Linked DNA regions of Homo sapiens: regions 2, 3, 4, 5, 6 and 7 are each linked to region 1. The links come from fine-mapping of genetic effects on gene expression. A gene starts in region 1. Each other region holds a variant in brackets. All regions are shown on one strand. Distances are between the middles of the regions. Region 1 holds the start of DGAT1 (diacylglycerol O-acyltransferase 1). Region 2 overlaps HSF1 (heat shock transcription factor 1). Region 3 overlaps ADCK5 (aarF domain containing kinase 5). Region 4 overlaps MROH1 (maestro heat like repeat family member 1). Region 5 overlaps HSF1 (heat shock transcription factor 1). Region 6 has its middle 6.9 kb from the start of CATSPERQ. Region 7 overlaps BOP1 (BOP1 ribosomal biogenesis factor).

Region 1 (4,062 bases):
TCACCAGCACCCCAGGCCCACAGCAGGCAAGCACCCCTCTCAGGAGGGCCACCCTCCTCCCCACGGCCCCTTCAAGGCCTCCGTGCCCGACCTTTGTCCATGTTGCTCCATGCCTGACTCTCGCTGAGGTTATCTTATCTCCCAGATGAACTGAGCACCCTGAGGGCCACGACAGTGCCTGCCCTCCCCCAACCCCCTCCCCATGGTGCCCCGTGAAGGAAAGCTCTGTTCTTGCTCACTGAGAGAGCAAATCATTGCCAACTACATGTCCAAAATCAGCCCACTTCTGCCTTGATAACCTCTAGGCCCTCAGCTGCTCTCTAAAACAAAGCCCTGAGGGCCCCTGGGCCAGGGTAAAGGCCATAAAGGGGGGATGGAGGGTGGCAAGGGGATTGCTCAAGGCCAGCTTGGTGGAGGAAGCCAATGCCCAGGCTGGCCAAGTCCTTCCCATCGGCCATGGTTCTCTCCCTCCACCCCTCTCTGTCAGTCATCCAGCTGAGCAGGGCACACGCCTGCAGGTGTGTCCACCACCCCCATACCCCACTCCCCACCTGGAGGATGGAAGTCCCAACACAGAACCCAACTCTCTGTCCCTACAACAGACGCTGGCTCTGGCAACATCGGCAGGGCTCCAGGCCAGCCTAACCACTGGAGCAATGAATGGGCCACGCAGCCACTCTCAGAAGGGTCTGCAAGGACAAGAACGCCTCTAACACTGCCCCTTGTCCGGGGCAGCTGCTGATTCCCCTGTCCTCGGACAGGCCTGGGCTCCTCTGGCCCCCTCCCTGGCAGGCCAGCCCTCCTCTGGGAGCCTTTCCTACCCGCAAGGCACCGCTCATAGCACCAAGAAGGAACCTATCACCACAAACTGCCCAGATCTTATCTGACTCCTTCCATATAAGGGGACACTGTCCAGGGCCGGGCCCCCACCAGCCCGCCCCTCGAAAAGCTCCTCAGGAGCCCCTGAGGATGCACAGACCCAAGAGGATCTGGATGCGGGACACCTGCCGGCTCCCCTCTGCCTGGCCAAGGCCAGCTCCAGAGCCCCTACCCAGTGACCTTGTCAGGTGACTCTCCCCAAGCCTCAGTTTCCCCACAGGGCCCATAGGGCACACCGATCCCCGCTTAGCCCAGGGCCCATGTTCTCGGACTCGGAGCTCGCGCTTCGGCCAACCCCGGAAAGTCGCGGGGCCCTTGGGTCAGAGGTTAGGGGGTCAGGCGCTCCGCTACCTCAGCTCCCAGTGGCCGCTGCCCACGCCGGCGTCTCCGTCCTTGTTGGGGGCCGGGGCTGGCGCGTCCCCCGCGGCTCCCACGTCGGGGCCCGCAGCGGCGTCCCGCACCTCCTCTTCCGCCGCCGCAGGCCCGCCGCCGCCGTGGCTCGAGGGCCGCGACCCTGTCCTCCGGCGCCGGGAGCTGCCGCGGTCGCCCATGGCCTCAGCCCGCACCCGGCCGCAGCCAAGCGTGGGCCCGCCGGGTTCGTAGCGCCCGAGGCGCGCGGCCCCACCTCCGGGCCCTAGACAACGGCCGCCACTGCCCCCTGCCGGCCGCCGTAGCCCGGGTGACCGCCTCACCAGCGCGTTCAACCCGCCCGCGTCGGGCCCGTCGGCCTCAAGGACAACGGCTGCGTTGCTCCGGAGCCGCTAACTAATGGACGGCCGCCTCTCTCGTCCATTTGTAGTCCGCGGCCGACCTGAGGCGGGGCCTGGAGAGGCTGACGGGGCGCAGGGCACCCTGGGAGTCGTAGTCGCCGCGGGCGCGCCGGCGCAGAGCACCCTGGGAGTCGTAGTCGCCGCGGCCGCACCGGCGCAGAGCACCCTGGGAGCCGTGGCAGCTCCCAGGGCCGGGGCTGCGGGCCGCAAGTGCGCGCAGCGGGAACGGACCTTGCATCGCTCCCGCGTGGTCCCGGGGTCCTGTCCGGCCCCACGGAGCGGGATGGTCCGCTGAGGGGTGCGCTGGGCCCCGACTTCCTGGCCGCTGTGCGCCCGCCCCTCGTCCCACTTGTGTACACACGGGGTCTCGGCGAGTCACTCCGGGCAATCATTTAGGAAGCGCCTAGTGCGCCACGGTCCAGCTGTCCGGGCCGGTGTCCGCGGCGGCTCGCGTCGCCCGCCACCCAGCGCGTTGGTTTCTGCGCACGCAGCTTACAGTAACGTCCCTGGCGCGCTTCTGCTCCGCGAGCCCTCTGGTTACCCCGGCAGGAACCTGCTTTTCTTCGCCTTAGGGGGACGTCAGACAAGGGCCAGGTCAGAAGACCAAGCTGGAGAAATGCACCAGGCCCTGCGTCACCGGGACGCCTGCCTTGCACGCGACTCCCAGGCTCTCCACCTCCCCGCCTGCAGAGCCCGGCGAGAGGAGGGCGAGGGCGAGGGCGAGGGCGCAGGCCCCTTGGTGGTGTCTTCTCAGCCCACCCACTCTCTCCACAAGGAGCTCCACGTCCCTCAACTCTCAGGGCCTCCCAGTTTCCAACGTGGGCCAGCCTCTCCAGGATGTCAGAAGTCTGGGCCGCTGGATCGCCGGGACTCAAGAGGCTTCTGTGCATTTGCACGGCCTGTGCAACCGCCCTGTTGTTTTTTGTTTTCTTTTTTCTTTTTTTGAGACAGTCTCACTCTGTCGCCAGGCTGGAGTGCAGTAGCGCGATCTCGTCTCACTGCAACCTCCACCTCCTGGGTTCAAGCGATTCTCCTGCCTCAGCCTCCCGAGTAGCCAGGACTACAGGCGCGTGCCACCACGCCCAGCTAATTTTTCTGTTTTTAGTAGAGACGGGCTTTCACCATATTGGCCAGGCTGGTCTCGATCTCCTGACCTCGTGATCCGCCCACCTCGGCCTCCCAAAGTGCTGGGATTATAGGCGCAAGCCACCGCGCCTGGCCTGTTGTTATTTTTTCTAAAGATGGGGGTCTCGCTATTCTGCCCAGGCTGGTCTCGAACTCCTGGCCTCACGCAATCCTCCCACCTCGGCCTCTGAAGGTGCTGGGATTACAGGTATGAGCCACTGCCCCAGACATCTTGTATGTTAAATGAAGCAACTAATCAACTGTAACAGCCACAGTTGCGGCCCACCTTGGCTTGGTGTGCATATTGCACAGGGCATGGAGTGAGAACATCCTGGATCTCAGGATGCCAGGGTTCACTGAGGACTCTGACTCTAGAAACACCTTCATTCCTCTGGGGTGAGCAGGGGCAAGCAGCACTTCTCTGGAAGCAAACAGGTGCTCCTCCTGAGGTGGGGTCCTCTCCCGTGGGCTGGTCACAGCCTCGCCTCTGAGCTCCGTCCTCTTCCACCACCTCCACCAACAGTGGCCAGCAGGGCTGCCCCCTTGGTTGCCCCCCTGGTGACATATTCTTGTCACCACAGGCCGCTGTGGGTTGCTGCCAACCAGGTATCAGGCAGGCTGGAGCTACCTGGCAGATGCCCTTTGTGTAGCCTGCCGAGTGGGGCCGCCCTCACTGGACCCAAGAGCCCCTCACACATGGGCCTTGGTCGGTCAGGACCAGCCCCATCTCCTACCCAGTCTCTCAGAATATTCATTTGTTGAATGCAGTCGCTGGCAGACACACTCTGTGGCCAGGTAGGCCCAGACCTGTCTGAGTATGGACTGACAGCAAGCTCAGAGAGGTCTGGACCTGGCCACGGAGCACCTCATGCTAGGCAGAGGAGATCAACGACTCAACCTGTGGTCGCGTCCCAACTCAAAGCCGGCAAGTGGCCACAGGAGAAAGACAATGGGAGGGTGGACTGGACCACCAGGGAGGATGGGTCGGGCCTGGTGAGCAGAGCCAGGCTTGGAGCCAATGGGGAAAGCACTGGCTGTGGGCGGGCCATTAAGGAAGGGCTTTGCCACCGGGGGTGGGGGCGTGGCGGGGCAGCAGCTCCAGAGGTGGGTGAAGCCCTGCCCAGACAGGCCCTATACCCTGGGATCTAGGGTGAGGGGAATGGTCAGGGTAGGTGAGGTTGGTTGGGGACAAGGGTGTGTATGGCTGGGTCATCGAGGAAAGCATGATGCAGATCACCCTGCTGGGGGCAGCAACAAATGAGGGGGCCCAAGCCCGAAGCGAGTTGCC
Region 2 (4,062 bases), 31 kb before region 1:
TCTAAGCTTAATCCTACTAGCGTGATCTGTCCTGTCCCGTAATCTGCTTGCTGTTTCTGCTTAAAGATTATGAGGCATGTGGGTTAGGGCCCAGTGTACCCTTTTTTGGGACCGAGGCATGTTCTGGGCAGGGCTTTTGAGCAAGGAAGGCAGGTGTGATGAGGCCCGTGGCCAGCCTCCACTCCACTCACAGGTGCACCACCTGTGGATCTGTTCTCCCTGGGGAGGGATGGGGAGCCAACTGGAATGTGAGTGTTTGGTTCCACCTGGTCAGTATGAAGTGGCAATGGTTGGTGCAGGACGTAGCACTGGGGGCGAGCATGGCAATGAGACAGAAACACTGACTTAAAACTGGAAGGAAGCCCTTCTCCAGGCCGCGCAGGGGGCTGCAGAGCTTTCCGGCGCTGGCTGCCTGGCCTGGAGAAAGGAGGTGATCATCCCATCCTGTGACTTTGAGAGCACTCACACAAGCCCTGAGGACTCCCTGTCAGCAGAGTCCCAACAGGGCACCCTCCCACAAATCTACTGCCCAGGCCCAGCTGGCTCTCGGAGGCCTTGAGAAGGCCCTGGTGCTCTTGCTCTCTGCTGCCTTCTCTGGGAGAGTCTCCTTCTGGCTCAGAGTCTTACCACCATTCTGCCAAGAAAAACCCTCCCTATTTGACACAAGAAGATGAGGCAGAATCACAGGCATGGTGACTAACTCTCAAGGCTGAATAACCTGGGGGAGACCGAGGCCCAGAAACTGGCCAGTAACTTTACTGAGCCTGGCCAGGAATGGGACCAGGTCTGGACCACCATTGCACGTCCCCTCCCTGGCCTGAGATCAGGACTCCCACTGCAGCCACTGGAGGCAGAATGCCGGGTCACTGCCCAGGAGACCCCATTGGTGGGGACTGTGGCAGCTACCCCATCCCTGTGTTGTTTGATTTCCCACCCCCCCCTCCCAAGACCCTCATTCCCATGAGCACCCCACCCACACAGGCAAGGGCCTTGAGGGGACCCAGCAAGTCGTGGAGGACAGCACAGCCTTGGAGAGGAAATGTGTCAGCCACAAGGTTATGATCCCGGGGATCCACATAAGAGCATGGGCGTGCACGTGGGTGGTCCTCCCTCAGCCAGCTTCTCAACAGCTTCTCCCAAAGGTACACCTGGATCCAGTACCACTGAGACCCAAAGACGGGGTTGGGGGACTGAATACCTGGACTGACAGGCACCTCCATAGAACTGAGACCCATGAGACCCGGGACCCGCAGCCTCCCTGCCCCGTGCCCTGGTGCCGGCCCTCAGCCCAGCTTCCTCGTCTGCATGCAGCAGCTCCTCTGTCCACCAGCAGAGGCTCTTCTAGGGCCTTGCTGGGCTGCAGCTGACTCAGGAGGGCAACAGCCTCTTCAGAGAATTTGACAGCATGGAGAACCAAACAAAAGCAGAAAGTGAAGCCTCAGAACTGGGTTCACCATCATCCCAGTTTTTTACAAGCTATGATTTTGTCCCATCTTTATTAACAAGATAAGGAAGTATGAAAAGTAATCTCGACATCTGAGATGGTGAGATTACAGCCCCAGGAGCCACCCAGCTGGCTGAGGAGCCTGAGAACAAGGCACAGCCACATGACCTGTGCCAGACAAATGCTAGAATGATGGTCACGCAGGTTAGAACGAACCCAGGTAGACGGAGGCCTCAGGATCAGGGTGAGGCCAGAGGGGGCACCTGGGTGCAAAATTTAAGGAAGCACTTTTTGTTTTTTAGATAAGGTCTCGCTCTGTTGCCCAGGCTGGAGTGCAGGGCTATGATTGCAGCTCGCTGCAGCCTCTGCCTCCCAGGCTCAAGTGATCCAGTCACCTCAGCTGAGTCACTGGGACTACAGGCTTGCACCACCAGACCTGGCTTTTTTTTTTTTTTCTTTTTAAGGTTTTAGTAGAGACAGGGTCTCGCCGTATTGCCCAAGCTAGTCTGGAACTCACGGGCTCAAGCCATCCTCCCATCTCAGCCTCCCGAAGTGCTGGGATTACAGGCTTGAGCCACCGCGCCTGGCCCTGAGGCATTCCTTTTTAAGACCTACCTGCATTCGGATGGCGCTGGGAGTGGGGGCCTCCTTAGATGTGGGCTCCTGGATGCTTCTCTGTCTTCACCTGGCCCCAGCCTCATGGGTGCAGCTGGAAAGACTCTAGAAGGATGTGCTGAAACCCTGGGGCTCCCTGAGACTGAGTGAGCTGGAGGTCACCAAGGCCCTCGGCCTATCGCGGGAGAGAGTTCCATTGAAAGCCAGTGGTCAGGTGGCCGCTGTGGAGGGTCTCTGGGTGGACAATTGGGAGCAGAGTGGTCCCTGCAGTGAGGCAGGGGGCAGGGCCTGAGGGGTCCCTGAAGTAAGGCAGGGCAGGGCGTCCACTCATAAGCACACGAGGAGTTGCAGAAGCAGAGCCGACCTGGCCACGCTCAGTCACTCAGACCCTGG[T/C]CACAGATCGTGTCCGGAGCTCCCACGGCAGGCAGGGCCACCCCTGCTTCCCTGGTTCTGAGAGCCGCCAAGACCCAGCAGGCCCACTGGCCCCACCCTGGAAGATCTGGTATTTGGCCCAAGATGCTGGAGGCCCCACAGCAGCAGCTGTGAGAAGTGCTGCAGGGTCTGGAGGGCCTGATGTGTGCCCGGACCATAGTGCCTCCTGGTGTGGCCATAAGAAGGCACACAGCTGGGGCTGGTCGTGGTGGCTCACGCCTGTAATCCCAGCACTTTGGGAGGCTGAGGTGGGCGGATCACGAGATCAGGAGGTCAGGAGATTGAGACCATCCTGGCTAACATGGTGAAACCCCGTCTATATTAAAAAATACAAAAAACTAGCTGGACGTGGTGGTGGGTGCCTGTAGTCCCAGCTACTTGCGAGGCTGAGGCAGGAGAACGGCGTGAACCCAGGAGGCGGGGCTTGCAGTGAGCTGAGATCGCGCCATTGCACTCCAGCCTGGGTGACAGAGCGGGACTCCATCTCAAAAAAAAAAAAAAAGAAGGCACACATCTGTCCTCATACAGCTTCTGTGCATAGCACAGAAAAAATTAAAAAGGCTCTGTGCTGTAGCCTCCTGTGTTTCCTCTGCCCCGGATGGTGTGGTGGGGGGGGTGCGGTGAGGAGGGGCCCAGGGCACAGAAGGGCTGAGCTGCAGTGGCCTCCTGGGGGGAGGCAGATGCCTCCGGTGCCCCATGCCCACCCAACTCCACAGGCTAGTGTTTGCTCAGTCCTTTATTGAGGGACCAGGGATGGACAGCCTGGCCCTGAAAGTCTCTCAGTTTTGGAGGAGTCAGCCTGTGTGCAGGGCGAGCTGGAGAGGGGTCGGTGGGGCTCACAGTGCCTTCCCAGAGGAAGCAAGCAGCTCCCATCGGGTATATTGAGGGCTGTTGGCTCCAGGGTCTCCTCAAGGTCTGGCAGGTGGAGGGGAGGCTGTCTAAGGAAAGGAGGTGGTCCCAAATGTCTCAAGGCACCTGGCAGCAAGGGCTGCTGCTGCCTCAGCCTCCTCCCTGTGACCCTGTGGGCCATGGTGAGCAGCAGTAGCCACCACACTTGTGCACGGCAGCCAGTGACGAGATGTGATGAGAGATGAGGGCGATTGTGCTGCTCTTGGTCCTTGTGTGGCGAGAACACGCTGGAAGCTCCTCCAGAGCGGAAACAAGAAGAGTGTTTATGAGAAAGGTGCGGGTGGCTCAGATGTGGACAGAACCAGACCAGGGAACGGGGCCACAAAGTGAGCCACTTTGTCTGCACCTGCTCGCGCTTCCTGCCTGCCTCACTGCTTCCATGCCCTGACTCCGGTGGTCCCTGCTCCCCACACGTGGGCCACAGCTACTCACACACGCGCTCCCTTTGCTCCTAAAGCCTATACTCCCGGGACCCGGAGAGGGAACAGCCGGCCAGCCGAGCCCAGGAGCCCAGATCACCGGTCAGCAGATACAGCTTTGACTTGGCAGGAGGCTGGAACAAGAGGCTTGTGGCCTGGGCTGTGGGGCCACCTTGTAGAATACGGCACTGTTCACGTTTTGGGCCAGGGAGCCCTTTGAGAAGATACTCAGAGACACAGACA
Region 3 (4,062 bases), 63 kb after region 1:
AGCACTCATTGATACTTTTTTTTTTTTTTGAGACAGAGTTTCACTCTTGTTGCCCAGGCTGGAGTGCAATGGTGGGATCTCCGCTCACTGCAACCTCCACCTCCTGGATTCAAGCGATTCTCCTGCCTCAGCCTCCTTAGTAGCTGGGGATTACAGGCACACGCCACCACACCCAGCTAATTTTGTATTTTTTAGTAGAGGCGGGTTTCTCTGTGTTGGTCAGACTGGTCTTGAACTCCTGACCTCAGGGGATCCGCCCGCCTTGGCCTCCCAAAGTGCTGGGATTATAGGTGTGAGCCACCACACCCGGCCTCCAACATTTTGTGAAAAACTTCAAACATACAGCAATGTTGAAAATGCTCTGTGAGGCAATGTGAAATGCAATGTGAAAATGCTTTGGGAGGCCGAGGAGGGCGGATCACGAGGTCAGGAGTTCGAGACCAGCCTGACCAACGTGGAGAAACCCCATCTCTACTAAAGATAGAAAAATTAGCTGGGCATGTGGTGGGCACCTGTAGTCCCAGCTCCTCGGGAGGCTGAGGCGGGAGAATTGCTTGAACCTGGGAGGCGGAGGTTGCAGTGAGCCTAGACTGTGCCACTGCACTCCAGTCTGGGCGACAGAGCGAGATTCCATCTCAAAAAAAAAAAAAAAATTAAATTCCTTCTCCCCCAAGCACAAGTCTGTGGGACTTTTTCACATCTTTAAGTTTTGTTACAAAAGTGTTGTGTTTACTATAACAAATTTTAATAGTAGAAAAGTTAGAGCCGGGCACGGTGGCTCACGCCTGTAATCCCAGCACTTTGGGAGGCCAAGGTGGGCGGATCACGAGGTCGGGAGATCGAGACCATCCTGGCCAACACGGTGAAACCCCATCTCTACTAAAAATACAAAAAAATTAGCCGGGCGTGGTGTTGGGCGCCTGTAGTCCCAGCTACTCTGGAGGCTGAGGCAGGAGAACGGCGTGAACCTGGGAGGCGGAGCCTGCAGTGAGCCAAGATCGCCACCACACTCCAGCCTGGGCGACAGAGCGAGACTCCGTCTCCAAAAAAAAAAAAAAAGAAACCGAAACCCTGGCCTAACCCAAGCACGCACTCCAGATGCTCTACGGGGGCCAGAGTGGGGCCTGAATGGCCGGGGGGTCGCCCTGGGTTGATGGGGGACACAGAGTCCACCTGAGCGCCAGAGCTGCGCTTCAGGAATGACTGTGGGCCCTGTCCCCAGGCAGGTACGTGAGCTTCACAGAACGCAGGGACAGGCCTCTGGCCATGGCCAGCCTTGGAGAAGCCACTCTGACCTCAGCCCCTCCCTGTGCACCTGTGTGTGGTCTGCCCGCTGCCTGGCGCCTCATTCCAGGGCTGCCCAGCTGGTCCCCAGAGTTCTCCCAGGGCTCCCACCCTGATATCCTCCTAACTGGGGCCAGGCCTGGGGACACCCCTCTACCCCATCCTCTTGCCTAAATCTCCCCCAGGAGCCCAGTACCTGCTCAACAGATACCCAGGATGTCCCCCACTTCCTGCCTTAACTGGGCTCTCTTCCCTGCAGACCTTGCCTCCCCAGGCCTTGGAGACCCACCCTCCTGGTGTCCTCCTCTCTTCCTAGTGGACCTCAGGCTGCAGGTGACCTTGACCCTCCTGTGACCTCTGCTGCCTCAGCCCTGCCCCCTTGCTGCCATCCTTTACCTTCACAGACAGCCTTGGAACCCCATCTCTCCAGAGGATGCCACCGTCCATACTGTCCCCTACCCCATCTCACCTGGGCACCCTTGAGGGTGGCAGGGAGTGAGGGTGGCATGGACACAGGCTGCCCATTCTGCAGATCTTTTTTTGTTTTTTGAGACGGAGTCTCGCTCTGTCGCCAGGCTGGAGTGCAGTGGCGCAATTTTAGCTCACCGAAACCCGCCTCCTGACTTCAAGTGATTCTCCTGCCTCAGC[C/A]TCCTGAGTAGCTGGCACTACAGGCACGCACCACCATGCCCAGCTAATTTTTGTATTTTTAGTAGAGACTAGGTTTCACCATGTTGGTCAGGATGGCCTCAATCTCTTGACTTTGTGATCTGCCCGCCTCGGCCTCCCAAAGTGCTGGGATCATAGGTGTGAGCTACCAAGCCCAGCCTCTTTTTTTTTTTTTTGAAACCGAGTTTCGCTCTTGTTGCCCAGGCTGGAGTGCAATGGCGCGATCTTGGCTCACTGCAACCTCTGCCTCTCGGGTTCAAGCAATTCTCCTGCCTCAGTCTCCCGAGTAGCTGGGATTACAGGTGTGCACCACCACACCCGGCTAATTTTTTTGTATTTTAAGTAGAAATGGGGTTTCACCATGTTGGCCAGGCTGGTCTTGAACTCCTGACCTCTGGTGATCCACTCACCTCGGCCTCCCAAAGTGCTGGGATTACAGGCGTGAGCCACTGTGCCCAGCTCTGCAGATCTTTTTTGGACGGAGTCTCGCTCTGTTGCCCAGGCTGGGGTGCAGTGGTGCAATCTCAGCTTACTGCAGTCTCCACCTCCTAGGCTCAAACGATCCTCCTGCCTCAGCTTCCTGAGGAGCTGGGACCACAGGTGTGCACCACCGTGCCTGCCTAATTTTTTTGCATTTTTGGTAGAGACAGGGTTTCAACATGTTGCCCAGGCCAGTCTCGAACTCCTGAGCTCAAGTGATCCTCCCAGCACAGCCTCCCAATGTGATGGGATAATTGACATGAGCCACCACACCTGGCCCCGTTCTACTGATCTTGAGCTGAGACTGACCTGCAGGGCCACAGGACACCCCACGAGCTCAGCAGCACCCCTTGTGCTCACACAGGCCTACGCGGCTGTAGGCTGGACCCTGGCTTGGCCTCACCCTTGGGACATGAAGGGCTGGCCGGGGTGAGGCTAGACCATGAGGGCTCTGACAAGAGGACCAAGCACCGGGGCCCCGAGCCTGCCCCGCTGGAGACTGAGGCCACCTCTGCCCGCAGGTCTCTGAAGGTCGGCCTGCAGATCTCCCTGGACTACTGGTGGTGCACCAATGTTGTCCTTCGAGGGGTGGAAGAGGTTTGTCCTGGTGCCCTGGGCACACAGTGGTGGGCATGAGGTGGTGGGCTGGGTGGGACTGAGGAGGCAGCCACCTGTCCCCATGTGTTCTCCCCATGCCTGTGGTCAGAACAGCCCAGGCTACTTGGAGGTGATGTCTGCGTGTCACCAGCGGGCGGCTGATGCCCTGGTGGCAGGGGCCATCAGCAACGGGGGCCTCTACGTGAAGCTGGGCCAGGGGCTGTGCTCCTTCAACCACCTGCTTCCCCCCGAGTATACCCGGACCCTGCGCGTGCTAGAGGACAGGGCCCTCAAGCGGGGCTTCCAGGAGGTGAGTGTGCGCTCAGGCCGAGGGAGGTGGGGCCTCCAGCAGTGGCCCCAGGCTGCTCTGAGCACCTGTCCTTCCAGGTGGATGAGTTGTTCCTTGAGGACTTCCAGGCCCTCCCCCACGAGCTCTTCCAGGAGTTTGACTACCAGCCAATTGCTGCCGCCAGCCTGGCACAGGTGCACAGAGCCAAGCTGCACGATGGCACCAGCGTGGCTGTGAAGGTATATGGGGGCTGCCTTGTTCAGCAGTGGGCTGGGGCGGGGCACAGTGGGGCCCCAAGTTCTCACCACACCCTCGCCCAGTGCAGGTGCAGTACATCGACCTGCGGGACCGCTTTGATGGGGACATCCACACCCTGGAGCTCCTGCTGCGGCTCGTTGAGGTCATGCACCCCAGCTTTGGCTTCAGCTGGGTCCTCCAGGTACAGCCCCACCCCTTCCCCGGCCAGCAGGAGCAAACACGTAGGCAGAGCTGGTAGGAGCAGCTGGTAGGCAGAGCTGGTCTTCAACCGCCATCTGGCCCCCAGGACCTGAAGGGGACCCTGGCCCAGGAGCTGGACTTCGAGAATGAGGGCCGCAACGCAGAGCGCTGTGCGCGGGAGCTGGCGCACTTCCCCTACGTCGTGGTGCCCCGCGTGCACTGGGACAAGTCCAGCAAGGTGGGCTGGGCCAGGCCCTTGGGGTGGGCACAGCGCTGGGCCTGCTGAGCCCAGCCTCTTGCTCTCCCCA
Region 4 (4,062 bases), 67 kb before region 1:
CTGGAGAGTGGCTCTGGCAGGGATAGGGCTAGCCACCAGGTGGGCAACACGCATTGGGTGCAGACCTGAGGAGTTAATCAGGAAGGGAGGTAGGCGTGTGTGCCCTACCAGCTGAGCACCCTGGCAATCCTGCAGCTCTGCAGTGGACACCCTGCGGTCCATGCTACTCCGCAGCGGCAGCGAGGATGTGGTACAGCGCATGGACCTGGAGGGAGGCTGGGAACTGCTCAGGACCTCGGCGGGGCATGAGGAGGGGGCCACCAGGTTGGCCAGGTGAGCGGGCCCAGCCCACTGCAGCTCCAGCACTGGCTGGGCTCCACCGGATCTCGAGCCCAGAACATGACAGGATCAGGCGGGGGCCCATGCGTGTCAGGCCAATGGTGCCCTGGGCTCCTGCCTGTTCACTCTCTGGGGCAGGGGTAGGGAGGCACCCCTGCAGAGGCCTGGCGAGGCAAGCTGGGAGGCATCTCTGAAACATAGAACTCCCAGAACCTGGCAGCTGGCGGTGGAGCGGACCAGGGCTGTGCAGGGTGGAAGGTGCCTGGGTAGGGTTCAGCACAGCAACAGCCCCTGCACCCTCAGCGGCCCCCTTTCCCAGGGCCATGGCTGAGCACGCAGGGCCCCGACTCCCCCTGGTGCTGAAGACGCTGGCATGCACACACAGCAGTGCGTATGAGAACCAGAGGGTGACCACCACCGCCTTCCTGGCCGAGGTAGGCCCTTCCAGGGACGGATGCTGGGCACCAAGGTGGGGCTCCTGCTCAGGACAGGCACGGGATGCCCTTTTCTTACCCCTAAAAGGCCCCCTCGACCGTGGTCTGTGAGGGAGGTTATGTGGATGCTAGCTACCTCCTCCCCCATGCCAGAACTCACTCAGTCCCACCCAGGGACACCCCCTCTGTGCCTGGTGAGAGGAGGACCGAGGCTCCCTGCAGCCTGTACTCTCCCCAAGTCCAGCTGGGTACATTTGTAGCTGGACAGGGCTGGCCCCTGGGACCCCAGGTGCCCTTGGTGGTGTGGTCTTGGCCTTCGTGGCCAAAGATGCCAAAATCTTGCCCAAGGCCGTGCAGCAGAGCACAGCGGGCGTCAGAGCAGGCCCCAGCGGCACAACAGGGAGGGGTCGCCACTGATCGGAGACCCAGGGAGTAGGTGCTCCACCTCTGTCTGCCACACCGGCGTGGGGACAGCCTCTGGTGTTCTGGGCCTGGGCTGGTGGGTTGAGCCCTGGGGTCAGCGGGGAGAGGGAAGTCACAGCACCTCTGCCTGCAGCTGCTGAACAGCAACGTGGCCAACGACCTCATGCTCTTGGACTCGCTGCTGGAGAGCCTGGCGGCTCGCCAGAAGGACACATGCGCCAGCGTGCGGAGGCTGGTGCTCCGCGGCCTGGCCAACCTGGCCTCCGGCTGCCCTGACAAGGTGGGGTGGCCACCAGCCCCTCTGGGTCCCAGGCAGCATGGGTGGGGGGCTGTGCATGGAGGCCACCCTGTCTTGTGGGGTAGCAGACGGTGACTCTGGGACCCAGGCTGAGTGTAAGGTATCCTCAGGTGCGAACCCACGGCCCCCAGCTCCTCACAGCCATGATTGGCGGGCTGGACGACGGGGACAACCCTCACAGCCCAGTGGCCCTGGAGGCCATGCTGGGCCTTGCGAGGCTGGTGCACCTGGTGGAGTCCTGGGACCTGCGCTCAGGGCTGCTGCACGTGGCCATCCGCATCCGGCCTTTCTTCGACAGTGTAGGCTGGTTGGGGCAGGGGGAGGGAAGAGGGCCCCAGC[C/A]CTTCCTGCCTCTTACTCTGAGCTTTAGCCCCAGCCCCACCCTCCTCCCTGTCTCCCACCTCGGCTAGGTGACCGTGGAGAGCGCGGACCTGCAGGGCTGCTGCTTTGCTGGGCCTGGCAGCCCCCACCCGTAAGGCCCCCACCCGTCGGGGTGTTTCCTGGCCCGGGTCAGGCAAGGGCACCCATCAATGGCAGGGGGCTAGGCAGGCAGGCCTGCAGGGGCACAGCCTGTGAGGAGACGTATGCTGCATGTCCTTCCCAGGAGAAGATGGAGTTCCGGACGGCATCTATCCGCCTCTTTGGGCACCTTAACAAGGTCTGCCACGGAGACTGTGAGGACGTCTTCCTGGACCAGGTGGTGGGCGGGCTGGCGCCCCTGCTGCTGCACCTGCAGGACCCTCAGGCCACCGTGGCCAGCGTGAGTAGCCAGGGGGTGAGTGGGATGGGGTGGGTGGCCTCAACTGGACTTGGCCCCAGTGCCGCATCCCTTAGGCCTGCAGGTTTGCCCTGCGCATGTGTGGCCCCAATCTGGCATGTGAGGAGCTCTCAGCTGCTTTCCAGAAACACCTGCAGGAGGGCCGAGCCCTGCACTTCGGGGAGTTCCTCAACACCACCTGCAAGCACCTGGTGAGGGGTGGGGCCAGGCGGGGCGTGGTGGGTGGGGCGGGGCCAGGCGGCACTGACCAGGCCTCTCCCCAGATGCACCATTTCCCAGACCTGCTGGGCCGTCTCCTGACCACCTGCCTGTTCTACTTCAAGAGCAGCTGGGAGAACGTCCGAGCTGCTGCACCCCTGTTCACCGGTAAGCACCACCCCCTGCCCCACCCCCACGCCGCCCGGCAGCCCCGCCTGATGCCCCCACTTCACAGGGTTCCTGGTGCTGCACTCGGAGCCCAGGCAGCAGCCGCAGGTGGACCTGGACCAGCTCATTGCGGGTGAGCACCCCTCCACGGGGCCCCTCCGCTGGGCCCTGCTGACCCTGTAGGCACCCGCAGGGACTAAGTGATTTTCCTGGATTTCAGGACTTTTTCCCTGTCACTGGTGACCTCATCGTCTCTAGTAATTCACGGAAACTTCTTAACTGTTCCAAAAGAGCTTAAAAAACACTAAAAAAGGAAAAACGATCTTTCCGTTGGCTCCTGAGCCTCCCAGCAGAGGCTGTCAGGAGAGCGTGGCCCACGCGCAGGCATGGGCATGCCGAGGTCACAGCCCGCAGGCAGCCCCCCTCCTCTACCCCCAGCGCTCCAGATCCTGCTGAAGGACCCGGCCCCCGAGGTGCGGACGAGGGCTGCTGAGGCCCTGGGCCGCCTGGTGAAGCTCGCCTAAGGCTCCGGCCAGCACCCCCAGCGAGGAGTATGCACCCAGACCTGTGCCTGAGCTCCAAGACAGGGCCTCCTGAGGACCACAGCCTGGGCACACGACTGGAGGGGCCTGGCCCCAGAACAGGCACTGCTGGGGACCAAACCCAAGCCCTTCAGTGAGGGATGTGCCCAATAAACTCATCTGCTCCCAGCGAGTGACTGACAGGGTGCGATGCTGAGCCTCTTAGGGGATGGGCCAGAGGGTGCCCTGGACTGGCTGTGTTGTCCCCACTGTTTTTGCAAAATTGAGTGAGGGGAAGGCTCGGCGCTGTGGTGGGGGCGGCTTTGTTGGCAACCCCAATTCAAGAAGGTGGGAGCACCAGGCAGCACAGGGTAAAGGCTCTGTTGACTTCAGCACGACCACCCCAGCCCCAGGCAGGCAGAACAGCTAGGTGAAGAGGCGGACAGTCCCGTCTGCCCCCGAGGAGAAGACCCACGGCTGGGTGGGGTGGAAGATGACGTCCAGCACTCCCAGATCTCGGGTCAGCACGTGTCCCTTCAGCACCTTGACGGGCACCAGCAAGGGGTTCTGCAGAAGGTCACTGTGGGGACGAGGAGGGCTCAGGGCACGGCCAGACACCACTGCCCTGGGGAGGGGGCCAGGCAGGGTCAGCACTCACTTGTACACCATGCCATGGCAGACGATGACACTGCCGTCGTCCGAGCCTGACGCAAAGAGTGGGTACCGCGGGTGGAAGGCCACAGCCCGCAGAGCCTTCTTGTGGTGTCTGGGGGGAGGGAACCAGGTTGAAGGCAGGCTCGGGCTGAAGGGAGGGGCTCTGCTGGCCGCCTCCACCCCCAGCTTTCCTCACCTCAGCATCCTGTATGGCTTGGTGGAAAGATCCAGGTCAAACCACACCAGCTTGCTATCGTAGCTCCCACAGATGACGTTGTCACCTAGGGCCAAAGGCTGTGATGCAGGTGTTCC
Region 5 (4,062 bases), 23 kb before region 1:
AGATTGCTTCCACTCAGGAGTTCGAGACCAGCCTGGGCAACATAGGGAGACCCATCTCTACAAAAAAAAATGAGCCTGATGTGGTGGTGTGCTCCTGTGGGCCCAGCTACGCGGGAGGCTGAGGTGGGAGGATCTCTTGATCCCAGGAGGTAGAGGTTGCAGTGAGCCCAGATCGCGCCACTGCACTCCAGCCTGGGTGACAAAGCAGACTCTGTCTCGAAAAAACATACATTGAAAAAGGCAGAAGATTTGAACAGATACATCAAAAAAAAGATAGACAAATAGCAAATAAGCACTTGAACAGGTGCTCAGCATCGTTCGTTGTCAGAGGAATGCACACGAAAACCGCAGCGACAGCGACTAGAACAGCCAGGTGCTGAGGAGGGTGCGGAGCCCCTGGAACTCACCCGTGCTGCTGAGAACACAAATGCTGCATCCGCTTTGGAAAGCAGCTTGGGAGTTGCATGTGAAATTCAGCATTTACCACACGGCCAGCAGTTCTGCTTTGGTTATTCTACTCCAGAGTTTCCACTGGGGGTCCTTTATGATTTCGTCTCTTCTATCATTTTTTTGGTATAGATGGGGGTCTCGCTATTTGGATTATTGTTGCAGGCGTGTTTGGGGTTTTTGAGTAGTGGTAGTGTCTGAGGTCAGTCAGGGTTGTTCTGGCCCCAGCAGGGCTCTTCGTAGCTTTTCCTGTGCAGGTGAACAAGCCTGCGGTTTCACTTGTTTCTCTTAACTTAGAGGAGCTGTTGTTCCCAAGAGCAGTCTTGGGCTGAACTTTCAAATAAAATGAGTTTCCTCAGGGAGCTTCAGAGCTCTTTCCTTATGGACGGCCTCTCTCCCCAGGCTGATTTCTCTGCACCACCCTTCTGGGCACTGGGTAAGACAGCAGCCTCTGATCTTCTTGGCCTGGCTTTCCCAGCATGGGTGCTCTACCCTACTGTTTTAACCTAGAAAGCCTGAACTGTATTTAAAACTTGTGGTTTTTAAGGCCAGGCACAGTGGCTCATGCCTGTAATCCCAGCACCTTGGGAAGCCAAGGTGGGTGGATCACTTATGGTCAGGAGTTCAAGACCAGCCTGACCAACCTGGTGAAAGCCTGTCTCTACTAAAAATATAAAAATAAGCCGGGCGTGGTGGCACATGCCTGTAATACCAGCTACCCAGGAAGCTGAGGCAGGAGAATTGCTTGAACCCAGGAGGCGGAGGTTGCAGTGAGCCAAGATGGCACCACTGCACTCCAGCCTGGGCGACAGCGAGACTCCATATAAAAAATAAAAAAAAAAATTGTGGTTTTGAAAATGCTTTAATTAGGTGGGAGCTGTGGGGAGGGTGATCAGAGACCTGGGTGTCCTCAGCCTGCTGTGGCGGGGGTAGTCTCCTCTCTGAGGCTTGGGCAAGGTGGAGGAAGGGAGCCCCTGGCTTCTTGGCCACGTGCACCAGGATCTTAGTCTCTTCAACTTGGAGTCGGTGAGGATGTGAAACTCTGGTGGTCTGCCCAGCCCATGAGATCCAGGAAACCTTATTTGGGAATTGAGGGGAGAAGGGTCCCCATCTTCCTGCTCCCCTCTCCCTGAGTGTAGTACCCATCATGGTGAGCTGGGGTGAGAGGGAAAGAGGAGGCTGAGGCTCAGATGCCACCAGGCTTAATGTTCGTACCAGGTGTCAGTAGATTTTACTCCGTAAGTGTTCATCTGTTATATGCGTTTAGGACAGTTTTGAGACTTTAAGTGGTTTAAGCTTTGCTTGTTTCACAGGAAGTACTTCCATGAAGTTCCTCACATTGCTGTTCCAGAAGTGGAAATCTCTCCATTTTCAAAGCATAGCTTTGCCGGATATTGAATTTTTATGTTTTGTAGAGATGGGGTCTCGCTATGTTGCCCAGGCTGGTCTCCAACTCCTGGGCTCAAGGGATCCTCCTGCCTTGGCCTCCCAAAGTGCTGGGATTACAGGCATGAGTAACTACACCCGGCCAATATACAAAGATTGAGTGGCAGGGTCTTTTATTTTAATGCTTTTATTTTATTTGTTTTGGTTTGTTTTTGTTTCTGTTTTTTTGGAGATGGAGTCTCGCTCTGTCACCCAGGCTAGAGGGCAGTGGCACGATCTGTGCTCACTACAACTTCTACCTCCCGGGTTCAAGCAGTTCTTCTGCCTCAGCCTCCCAAGTAGCTGGGATTACAGGCATGAGCCACGACACTAAAATTTTTCCATTTTTAGTAGAGGCGGGGTTTCACCATGCTGGCCAGGCTGGAACTCCTGACCTCAAACGATCCACACACCTCAGCCTCCCAAAGTGTTGGGATTACAGGCATGAGCCACCACACCAGGCATTTTAATCCTTTTTTTTTTTTTTTATTGAGACAGAGTCTCACTCTGTCCCCCAGGCTGGAGTGCAGTGG[G/C]GTGATCTCGGCTCACTGCAACCTCTGCCTCCTGGGTTCAAGCGATTCTCCTGCCTCAGCCTCCCGAGTAGCTGGGACTATAGGCGCCCGCCACTGTGCCGGCTAATTTTTATATTTTTAGTAGAGACGGGGTTTCCCCATGTTGGCCAGGCTGGTCTCGAATTCCTAACCTCAGGTGATCCGCCTGGCTCAGCCTCCCAACATGCTGGGATTACAGGTGTGAGCCACCATGCCCGGCTGTGTTACACTTTTTGTGGTGTCTCACAGGTCTCTGAGGCTCTGCTCATTTTTGTTTTTGTTTTTATTTTTTTGAGACAGAGTCTCTTTCTGTCACTAGACTGGAGTGCAGTGGTGCAATCTCGGCTCACTGCAACCTCTGCCTCCAGAGTTCAAGCGATTCTCTTGCCTCAGCCTCCCAAGTAGCTGGGATTACAGGCACATGCCACCATGCCCAACTAATTTTTTTTGTATTTTTAGTAGAGATGGGGTTTGACCATGTTGGCCAGGATGGTCTAGATCTCTTGACCTCGTGATCCAACCACCTTGGCCTCCCAAAGTGCTGAGATTACAGGCGTGAGCCACTGCGCCTGGCCGGCTCCTCCTTCTTATTCCTTCTGTCTTTTTTTCTCCTACTGGAGCACCTCAATTGACTGATCTTCATGTTTGCTGACTCCTTCTTCTCCTAGTCAGGTCTGCTCTTAAGCCCCTCTGGTTAATTTTTTTTTTTTTTTTTTTTTTTTTTTGAGACGGAGTCTCACTCTGTAGCCCAGGCTGGAGTGCAATGGCGCGATCTCGGCTCACTGCAACCTCTGCCTCCCGGGTTCAAACAATTCTCCTGCCTCAGCCTCCTGAGTAGCCGGGATTACAGGCATGAGCCACCACACCTGGCTAATTTTGTATTTTTAGTAGAGACGGGGTTTCTCCATGTTGGTCAGGTTGGTCTCCAACTCCTGACCTCAGGTGATCCGCCTGCCTTGGCCTCCCAAACTGCTGGGATTACAGGCGTGAGCCACCGCGCCCGGCCCCTCTGGTTGACTTTTAATCTGAGTTATTAAACTCTTCAGCTCCATAATTTTGATTTCGGGCTTCTTTACAATTTTTATCTCTTTATTGATACTCTCTGATAAGATGTCATTCTCATACTTTAGTTCTTCAGATGTGGTTTCCTTTAGTTGTTTGAACATATTTGAAATGATTGACTTAAAATCTTTGCCTCGTAAGTCCAGTGTCCAATGTTTTGGCTTCTTTGGGGACAGTTTCTATTGATTGCCTTTTTTTTTTTTTCCCGTGTATGGGGTATGGGTCCTAGCTTCTTGTTTCTTTGCATATCTCTATTTTTTTTTTTAACTAGAGTTTTTTGTTTGTTTGTTTGTTTGTTTGTTTTTGAGTCTGTTACCCAGGCTGGAGCGCAGTAGTTCAATCACAGCTCACTGCAGCCTTCACCTCCGGAGCTCAAGGGATCCTCCCTCCTCAGCCTCCTGAGTAGCTGGGATGATAGGTGTGCGCCACCACGCCCACTTAATTTTTGTATTTCTTCTAGAGACGGGGTTTTGCCATGTTGCCCAGGCCAGTCTCCAACTCCTGAGCTTGAGCAACCCACCCGCCTCGGCTTCCCAAAGTGCTGGGACCGCAGGCGTGAACCAGCGCAGCCGGCTGG
Region 6 (4,062 bases), 21 kb after region 1:
GGTGGGCAGATCACCTGAGGTCAGCAGTTCGAGACCAGCCTGGTCAACATAGTGAAACCTCGTCTCTACTAAAAATATAGAATTAGCCAGGCGTGGTAGCTCATGCCTGTACTGTAATCCCAGCTACTCAGGAGGCTGAGGCAGGAGAAATGCATGAACTCAGGAGGCGGAGGTTGCAGTGAGCTAAGATCACACCATCACACTCCAGCCTGGGCAACAAGAGAGAACCTCCATCTCAAAAAAAAACAAAAACAAAAAGGCTGGGCTTGGTGGCTCACGCCCGGAATCCCAGCACTTTGGGAAGCCAAGGCAGGTGGATCACAAGGTCAGGAGATCAAGACCATCCTGGCTGACATGGTGAAACCCCGTCTCTACTAAAAATACAAAAAAAATTAGCTGGGCGTGGTGGTGGGTGCCTGTAGTCCCAGCTACTCGGGAGGCTGAGGCAGGAGAATGGCGTGAACCTGGAAGGTGGAGCTTGCAGTGAGCCGAGATCGCGCCACTGCACTCCAGCCTGGGCGATAGAGTGGGACTCCATCTCAAAAAAAAAAAAACAGGGTCTCATCCTGTTGTCCAGGCTGGAGTGCAGTGGTACAATCACAGCTCACTGCAGCCTTGACCTCTTGGGTTCAAGTGACCCTGCCACCTCAGCCACAGGGGCATGTCACTGTATCCAGCTAATTTAAAAAAGTTGGCTGGGCATGGTGGCTCACGCCTGTAATCCCAGCACATTGGGAGGCCGAGGCAGGCAGATCACTTGAGGTCAGGAGTTCAAGACCAGCCTGGGCAACATGGTGAAACTCTGTCTCTACTAAAAAAAAAAAAAAAAAAAAAAAAAATACAAAAATTAGCCCAGCCTGGTAATGCATGCCTGTAATCCCAGCTACTGGGGAGACTGAGGCAGGAGAATCACTTGAACCCAGGAGGTGGAGATTGTAGTGAACTGGGATCACACCCAGCGCCCACCAGCCTGGGTAACAGATTGAGACTCCGTCTCAAAAAAAAAAATTTTTTTTTTTTGTAGAGACGAGGTATCACCATGTTGCCCAGGCTGGCTTGAACTCCTGGGCTCAAGGGAGCCTCCTGCCTTGTCCTGTCAAAGTGCTGGGATTACAGTTGTGAGCCACTGAGCCCGGCCTGTCTTCCATGCCTATGGTTCCTTTGTCACAGTTAAGACACCAACATTGGGCCGGGCGTGGTGGCTCACGCCTGTCATCCCAGCACTTTGGGAGGCCGAGGCGGGTGGATCCCCTGAGGTCAGGAGTTTGCGACCAGACTGGACAACATGGTGAAACCCCATCTCTGCTAAAAATATAAAAAAACTAGCATGGTGGTGGGTGCCTGAAATCCCAGCTACTCGGGAGGCTGAGGCAGAATTGCTTGAACTCAGGAGACGGAGGTTGCAATGAGCTGACACAGCACCACTGCACTCCAGTCTCAGTGACACAGTAAGACTCCGTTGCAAAAAAAAAAAAAAGAAAAAAAAAGAAACCAACCTTGATACATTACTGCTAACTCCAGGCTTTATTTGGATTTCACTAGTTTTTCCATCTACATCCTCTATCTGTTACAGAAATCAATTCAAGATACGACTTTGCATTTAGCTATCACGTCTCTTTAGTCTGTGGTCTGTGACAATTTATCAGTCTTTCCCTGTTTTTCATGATCTTGACAGTTTTGAGGAGCACTGCTCAATTTTATAGATTGAATGAGTCTTTGGTAAAATGTCCCTCAGTTGGGGTTTGTCTGATGTGCTCT[C/T]GTGATGAGGGTTTGGGGTGTGGGGAGGCTTCTCATTACATCACCGCAGGGCTCATGTGGCGTCACTGTGACATCACTGGTGAGGCTGACCTCAGTCACCTGGTTAACGTGGCATCTGCCAGATTCTTCCACTGTCAAGTTACTATTTTTCTTTTCTTTTCTTTTTTTTTTTTTTTTTGAGACGGAGTCTCGCTCTGTCTCCCAGGCTGGAGTGCAGTGGTGTAATCTCGGCTCACTGCAACCTCTGCCTTCCGGGTTCAAGCGATTCTCCTCCCTCAGCCTCCTGAGTAGCTGTGATTACAGGCAACTGCCACCATGCCCGGCTAATTTTCTATTTTTAGTAGAGACGGGATTTTGCCATGTTGGCCAGGTTGGTCTCGAACTCCCGACCTTGTGATCCACCTGCCTCGGCCTCCCAAACTGCTGGGATTATAGGCGTGAGCCACCACACCTAGCCCTTTTTTCTTTTCTTTTCTTTTCTTGAGACAGAGTTTCGCTCTTGTTGCCAAGGCTGGAGTGCAGTGGCGTGATCTGGGCTCACTGCAACCTCCACCTCCTGGGTTCAAGCGATTCTACTGCCTCAGCCTCCTGAGTGGCTGGGATTACAGGAGCCCACCACCTCGCCCAGCTAATTTTTGTATTTTTAGTAGAGATGGGGTTTCACCATGTTGGCCAAGCTGGTCTCGAACTCCTGAGCTCTGGTGATCCGCCCACCTCGATCCCCCAAAGTGCTGGGATTATAGGCGTGAGCCACCAGGCCCGGCCACCTACCCTTGTTTGACCCAACTAACTGCCTACTCCACACCTGCATCTAAGCAGCAAACCTTTTCCCTAGAAAAACAACCACATCCACTCACCCTTCACATGTGTGACACGCATCTCAACTGAGCACCCCACACTGCCTGACAATCTTACTATACTTTCCCTATCCAGTTACTCTCCTGCTCCCTGGGAAGACTATTTCACACCTCGTCTTCTTGACTTAAAACCTGCTAATCCCCTCCACCTTCAAAGCTAATAACCTTTTTTTTTTTTTTTGAGACAGAGTCTCACTCTGTCGCCCAGGTTGGAGTGCAGTGGCGCCATCTTGGCTCACCACAAGCTCCGCCTCCTGGGTTCACGCCATTCTCCTGCCTAAGCCTCCCAAGTAGCTGGGACTACAGGTGCCCACCACCACGCCCGGCTAATTTTTTTTTGTATTTTTAGTAGAGACGGGGTTTCACCGTGTTAGCCAGGATCTCCTGACCTTGTGATCCGCCCGCCTTGGCCTCCCAAAGTGCTGGGATTACAGGCGTGAGCCACTGCACCCGGCCAACCATTTTTTTTTTTAAGAGATGGGGTCTCACTATGCTGTCTAGCCTGGTCTCAAACTCCTGGGCTTAAGCAATTCTCTTGCCTCATCCCAGCCTCCCAAGCAGTTGAGACTACAGGTGTGCAGAACCGCATCTGGCTAATTTTTGTATTTTCTGTAGAGACAAGGTTCACTATGTTACCCAGACTGGTCTTGAACAGGAGTTCAAGCAGTCCACCTGCTTTAGCCTCCCAAAGTGCTAGCATCACAGGTGCAAGCCACAACGTTCAGCCTAATAATCTTATTAGTTAGAATCACACTTGCCAGCAACTGTTAGAAAACTCCAAATAGGCCGGGCGCGGTGGCTCATGCCTGTAATCCTAGCACTTTAGGAGGCCAAGGCAGGTGGATCAAATAGGCCGGGCACGGTGGCTCATGCCTGCAATCCCAGCACTTCAGGAGGCCAAGGCAGGTGGATCAAATAGGCCGGGTGCGGTGGCTCATGCCTGCAATCCCAGCACTTCAGGAGGCCAAGGCAGGTGGATCAAATAGGCCGGGTGCGGTGGCTCATGCCTGCAATCCCAGCACGTCAGGAGGCCAAGGCAGGTGGATCAAATAGGCCGGGTGCGGTGGCTCATGCCTGCAATCCTAGCACCTTAGGAGGCCAAGGCAGGTGGATCAAATAGGCCGGGTGCGGTGGCTCACACCTGTCATCCCAGCACTTTAGGAGGCCGAGGCAGGCAGATCACGAGGTCAGGCGTTTGAGACCAGCCTGGCCAGCATGGTGAAACTCTGTCTCTACTGAAAATACAAAAATTAGCCAGGCATGGTGGCGGGCACCTGTAATCCCAGCTATTTGGGACGCTAAGGCAGGAGAATCACTTGGAACAGGAAGGCAGAGGTTGCAGTGAGCAGAGATCATACCACTGCACTCCAGCCTAGGCAAAAGAGCGAAACTCCATCTCAACAACAACAACAAATGTAAATTACAGTGGCTTAAACTGGAAATTTGT
Region 7 (4,062 bases), 44 kb before region 1:
TTTAATACCAGGTCTTAGGCCTTCTCTTACTTTAATACTAGGTCTTAGGCCTTCTCTTACTAGTGCTTTTTTCTTTCAAGACAGAGTCCCACTCACTCTGTCACCCAGGATGGAGGCAGTGGCATGATCTCAGCTTACTCTAACTTCCGCCTCCCAGGCTCAAGCAATTCACATGAGGTTTCACCATGTTGGCCGGGCTGGTCTCGAACTCCTCAAGTGATCCGCCCACCTTGGCCTCCCAAAGTGCTGGGATTACAGGTTTGGCTCACCGCATCCAGTCTTTTCTCACATTCTTGACTGTGACAAGCAGATTAACTGATAAAAACAGAAACTTCTGCACAAAATAATAAAAAGAAAAACTCACATAAATGAAAAGACAAAACCAAGCAAAGCTGGGAAAAAAATGAATCTAAATGAGCACAGAAAGGAAAAAACAGCTCTGAGCGCACGGACCCCACAGATCCACTAGACACCAGCGATAAAGAGAAGGCCCTGCAACCAGTCCTCGCTCCGGTGAGCCCGCGGCCCGCGCTGCCGTGTGCTGCTGGAGAGGGGACAGGAAGCGAGGCACAGGCCGGCAGGAGGCAGCTTCCTCCCTGGCTGGTCAGTGGAGGGCTGGGAGCACCCGTGTCAGGGGTGCTGCAGGGCAGGGAGCACACAGCCCAGGGCGCCCCTCCAGTGGGATGGCTCGCAGACACAGTCAACAGCTGGAAGGGCAGGGGCTGCAGAAAGTCCCAGGGAGTAGGAACCAGGCCAGGAGACAGAACTCGTGGGTCATCAGGTGGCACAGAACGCAATTAAGAGGCAGGACTGCCAGGCCCAAGGCAGGGAGGCTGGAGATGGGGTGGGCCCTGGGGTGAGGCTGGCCCACCAAGCTCGTGCCAGAGCAGGTGGACCCAGAAAGAGGGGTCACTGTAGCAGGGACGCAAAGGGTGGGGAAGGGATGCCTGCCCTCAAACCACACAAACACAAAAATAAATCAAACCCACTGGCCCCAAGGAGGCTACTAGCAACAGCTGTGGGCCCTGCCGTGGCCCACAGATACCCCAGGGAAGGAAGGGGGAGGTACAGCACCCACCCCATCTTCTTGGGCCCTGTCCCTGTCCTCATCCCTATCCTCTGACCACCCCCCAGACACAGAGTACCCTTCTTCACCTTCACTCCTGAGCTCCTCATGCCAACAGTCAGGGGAGGAGCTGCAAAGGGCACAGCCAGACCCTGCTCCTTGAGTGCACCTCACAAAACACCAGGACTCCTGACCCCAGAAACACAGACAGCAAATGCTCGTTGTTGAAAGGCACTATGGTGGCCAGGTGCGGTGGCTCACGCCTGTAATCCCAGCACTTTGGGAGGCCAAGGCAGGTGGATTACCTGAGGTCAGGAGTTCAAGACCAGCCTGGCCAACATGGTGACACTCCCTCTCTACTAAAAATACAAAAAAAAAAAAAATTACCCGAGCGTGGTGGCTGGCATCTGTAATCCCAGCTACTCAGGAGGTTGAGGCACGAGAATCGCTTGAACCCAGGAGGCAGAAGTTGCAGTGAGCCGAGATTGTGCCACTGCACTCCAGCCTGGGCGATAAGAGCAAAAAAACTCCATCTCAAAAAAAAAAAAAAAAAAAAAAAAGAAAGGCTCCATGGTTTGGGGCAGTTTGTTGTGGTGCCAGATAACAAAACAAACAAACAGAGAGAAAACAGCAAAGGGCTCCTGGCCCAGGGAGCTCAGACCAAAATGACAAGAACCAGCTAGCTGTCCTGCCCTTGGGCAACAGCCATGAGGGTTTCCAGCCAGCTAAGTGCATGGATGATGCCGCCACAGGGAAGAGACAGAAGGGCTTCCGGGACTGGGACCACGGGCACGCACCGCCATGCCTGGCTCATTTTTTAAATTTTCTGTAAAAATGGGGTCTCATTATATGGCACAGGCTGGTCTTGAACTCCTGGGCTCAAGAGATCCACCTGCCTTGGCCTCCCAAAGTGCTGGGATTACAGGTGTGAGCCACTGGGCCCAGCCTGTGACTCATTCTTTTTATTTTTATTTTTTCAGTTAAGCCCAGCTGTGCGAGCCTCATTCTTAATGAAAGAAAAACATCACTAAACAAGAGGAAAAGATGAAGCAGCAACACCATGAGGGAGGCTGGTGGTGGGAAAGCAGCTGAGGGGCGGCTGCAGTAGTGCATGGCATCACCGCCTAGCGGAGGGACGCTCCAAGCACCTTCACAATTAAATGCATTGATGGCCAGGTGCGGCGGCTCACGCCTGTCATCCCAGCACTTCAGGAGGCC[A/C]AGACAGGTGGATTACCTGAGGTCAGGAGTTCGAGACCAGCTCAGCCAACATGGTGAAACCCGTCTCTCCTAAAAATACAGACATTAGCCGGGCGTGATGACGGGCGCCTGTAATCCCGGCTACTCAGGAGGCTGAGGCGGGAGAATCACTTGAACCCAGGAGGTGGAGGTTGCAGTGAGCCGAGATTGCACCACCGTACTCCAGCCTGGGCGACAGAGCGAGACTCTGTCTCAAAAAACAAAACAAAACAAAACAAAACAAAACTAGCCAGGCATGGTGGCGGGGACCCTGTAGTCCCAGCTACCAGGGAGGCTGAGGTAGGAGGATCCCTTGAGCCCAGGAAGTTGAGATTTTGGTGAGCCAACATCGCACCACTGCCCTCCAGCCTGAGTGACAGAGTGAGACCCTGTCTCAAACAAAAAAAAGCATTTATCCTTTGACCTAGAAATTCTCTTGGAATTTTCCCCAAGAATGGTGTGCACATGTGAGAAACAGCATGTTACTGTCAGGTCAACTGTAAGAGCAAAAGCCTGCAACTGCCCACCCACTGGAGCTGTTGAGGCCGAGCTGCCAGGCACTCTACGGGCACCAAGCACTGTACAAACCAGAGCCATGGCCTCCCTGACAGAACCATCCTGAGACAGCGCACGGCTGCCCCTTCTCTTAAGAAACCACCATTCAAAAACTCTGTGCGAGTTTGGATATGTCTAGAACATCCTGGAAAGAGACTTCAGCACTGGAAACAGTAGTTGCCTGGATGCAGCAACAGGAGCCAGGAGGGAAGGGTAGGAGACTCGTTCCCTGGCACACCCCTCAGGAGCACCTGAGCATCCAAAGGTGCCCTAGAACACCACGTGCAGCTGCTCACTGAATGCCACGTAATTCTACACAGTCCTTAGAAAGGAGGCAGGGTCGTGTGCATGTCAATGCTAAAGGCCTGAGGGCAGAAAGCCAGAGGGAAGCCTGTGGCCCGGCCCTGCAGCCAGAAGCACGCCCACCCTGGGTCCACCCAGGCAGGTCCGGAGCCCTTGGCAGGTCGCCAGGTCTCCACAGGGGCCGCCAGCAGCTGACCCCCAGCAGTCACCGGGCTCCCCGCTACAAGGGCCTCCCACTGTGGGGCTCTCCGCAGGACGCCCCGGGCCGGTCTGGGTTGGTTTGGGGCACACACTTGGAATCAGATTTATGGAGGAGGCTCTCTGAAGGTGACCCATCAGCCACATCGCTGCCAGGATGGCAGAGATGAACAAAAGCCGCAGCTCCCTCCCATGCCAGTCACACAGCCCCTTCTTCACAGCACCATCGGGGCCGGGTATACCCACCAAGGGCTAGGCGGCCTGGGGAGTGAGGCCCTCGCCCTGCCTGACTTCGTGTGTCCCTGAGGTGTCCGTGACATGACACATGCATGCTGCCTGATGCCCAGCCCCATCCCGCCACTGTTCCAGTCTGATGTGATGCTGTGGCTGGGATGTCCTTCAGATGCACGAGGCAGAGGCCACAGGGGCCACGTCTTGCCAACCACTGTGGAGGAAACAGCGACAGGAGGGAGTGGGGGGACAGGCAGAAGCACGTGGCAGAAGAGAAATTAGCAAAAACATCATCTCGTCCTTCAGGGGCTGCCAGGCAGACATTACCCTCACTTACCAAGTAACCCACCGAGGCCCATGAACCATCTGCAAGACCACACGAGTGGCCGTGGCCAGGACCACAGAATCCCAGGTGCGCCCACTGCAGGGCAAGGACACTTAGCAGCAGGAGAAGCTGCTGTGTCACTGTGGTG

What was found. PIP is the estimated chance that this variant, and not a neighbour inherited with it, causes the effect.
Region 2: its variant is fine-mapped to the expression of DGAT1 in whole blood (TOPMed, PIP above 0.99).
Region 3: its variant is fine-mapped to the expression of DGAT1 in whole blood (TOPMed, PIP above 0.99).
Region 4: its variant is fine-mapped to the expression of DGAT1 in whole blood (INTERVAL, PIP above 0.99).
Region 5: its variant is fine-mapped to the expression of DGAT1 in whole blood (TOPMed, PIP above 0.99).
Region 6: its variant is fine-mapped to the expression of DGAT1 in whole blood (TOPMed, PIP above 0.99). The same link has a PIP of 0.9 or more in blood mononuclear cells.
Region 7: its variant is fine-mapped to the expression of DGAT1 in whole blood (TOPMed, PIP above 0.99).

The regions. Positions count from the first base shown.
Region 1 is chr8:144,325,207-144,329,268 of GRCh38, forward strand. DGAT1 (diacylglycerol O-acyltransferase 1) reads right to left here and starts at 1,646. Exons shown (of 17, transcript NM_012079.6): 1 at 1,231-1,646. The coding sequence starts at 1,430. RefSeq lists silencers at 1,273-1,342, 1,353-2,072.
Region 2 is chr8:144,293,829-144,297,890 of GRCh38, forward strand. The region is part of intron 1 of HSF1 (heat shock transcription factor 1); the gene reads left to right. Among named protein-coding and RNA genes, the nearest start is that of HSF1, 4.3 kb to the left of the region's middle. The variant T/C (reference allele first, on the strand shown) is at 2,453.
Region 3 is chr8:144,387,720-144,391,781 of GRCh38, forward strand. It overlaps ADCK5 (aarF domain containing kinase 5), which reads left to right. Exons shown (of 15, transcript NM_174922.5): 4 at 2,952-3,027; 5 at 3,137-3,337; 6 at 3,415-3,555; 7 at 3,642-3,755; 8 at 3,861-3,992. Among named protein-coding and RNA genes, the nearest start is that of MIR939, 4.5 kb to the right of the region's middle. RefSeq lists an enhancer at 730-1,231. The variant C/A (reference allele first, on the strand shown) is at 1,933.
Region 4 is chr8:144,258,642-144,262,703 of GRCh38, forward strand. It overlaps MROH1 (maestro heat like repeat family member 1), which reads left to right. Exons shown (of 44, transcript NM_032450.3): 36 at 136-273; 37 at 599-713; 38 at 1,270-1,416; 39 at 1,545-1,733; 40 at 2,036-2,191; 41 at 2,266-2,400; 42 at 2,473-2,575; 43 at 2,643-2,708; 44 at 3,014-3,285. The coding sequence ends at 3,099. It overlaps BOP1 (BOP1 ribosomal biogenesis factor), which reads right to left. Exons shown (of 16, transcript NM_015201.5): 14 at 3,947-4,031; 15 at 3,755-3,862; 16 at 3,404-3,676. The coding sequence ends at 3,523. It overlaps MIR7112 (microRNA 7112), which reads right to left; the gene lies at 4,032-4,062. Among named protein-coding and RNA genes, the nearest start is that of MIR7112, 2.1 kb to the right of the region's middle. The variant C/A (reference allele first, on the strand shown) is at 1,774.
Region 5 is chr8:144,302,603-144,306,664 of GRCh38, forward strand. All of the region lies in intron 1 of HSF1 (heat shock transcription factor 1), which reads left to right. Among named protein-coding and RNA genes, the nearest start is that of MIR6848, 13 kb to the right of the region's middle. The variant G/C (reference allele first, on the strand shown) is at 2,406.
Region 6 is chr8:144,346,002-144,350,063 of GRCh38, forward strand. No RefSeq gene overlaps it. Among named protein-coding and RNA genes, the nearest start is that of CATSPERQ, 6.9 kb to the right of the region's middle. The variant C/T (reference allele first, on the strand shown) is at 1,759.
Region 7 is chr8:144,281,600-144,285,661 of GRCh38, forward strand. All of the region lies in intron 2 of BOP1 (BOP1 ribosomal biogenesis factor), which reads right to left. Among named protein-coding and RNA genes, the nearest start is that of BOP1, 7.8 kb to the right of the region's middle. The variant A/C (reference allele first, on the strand shown) is at 2,285.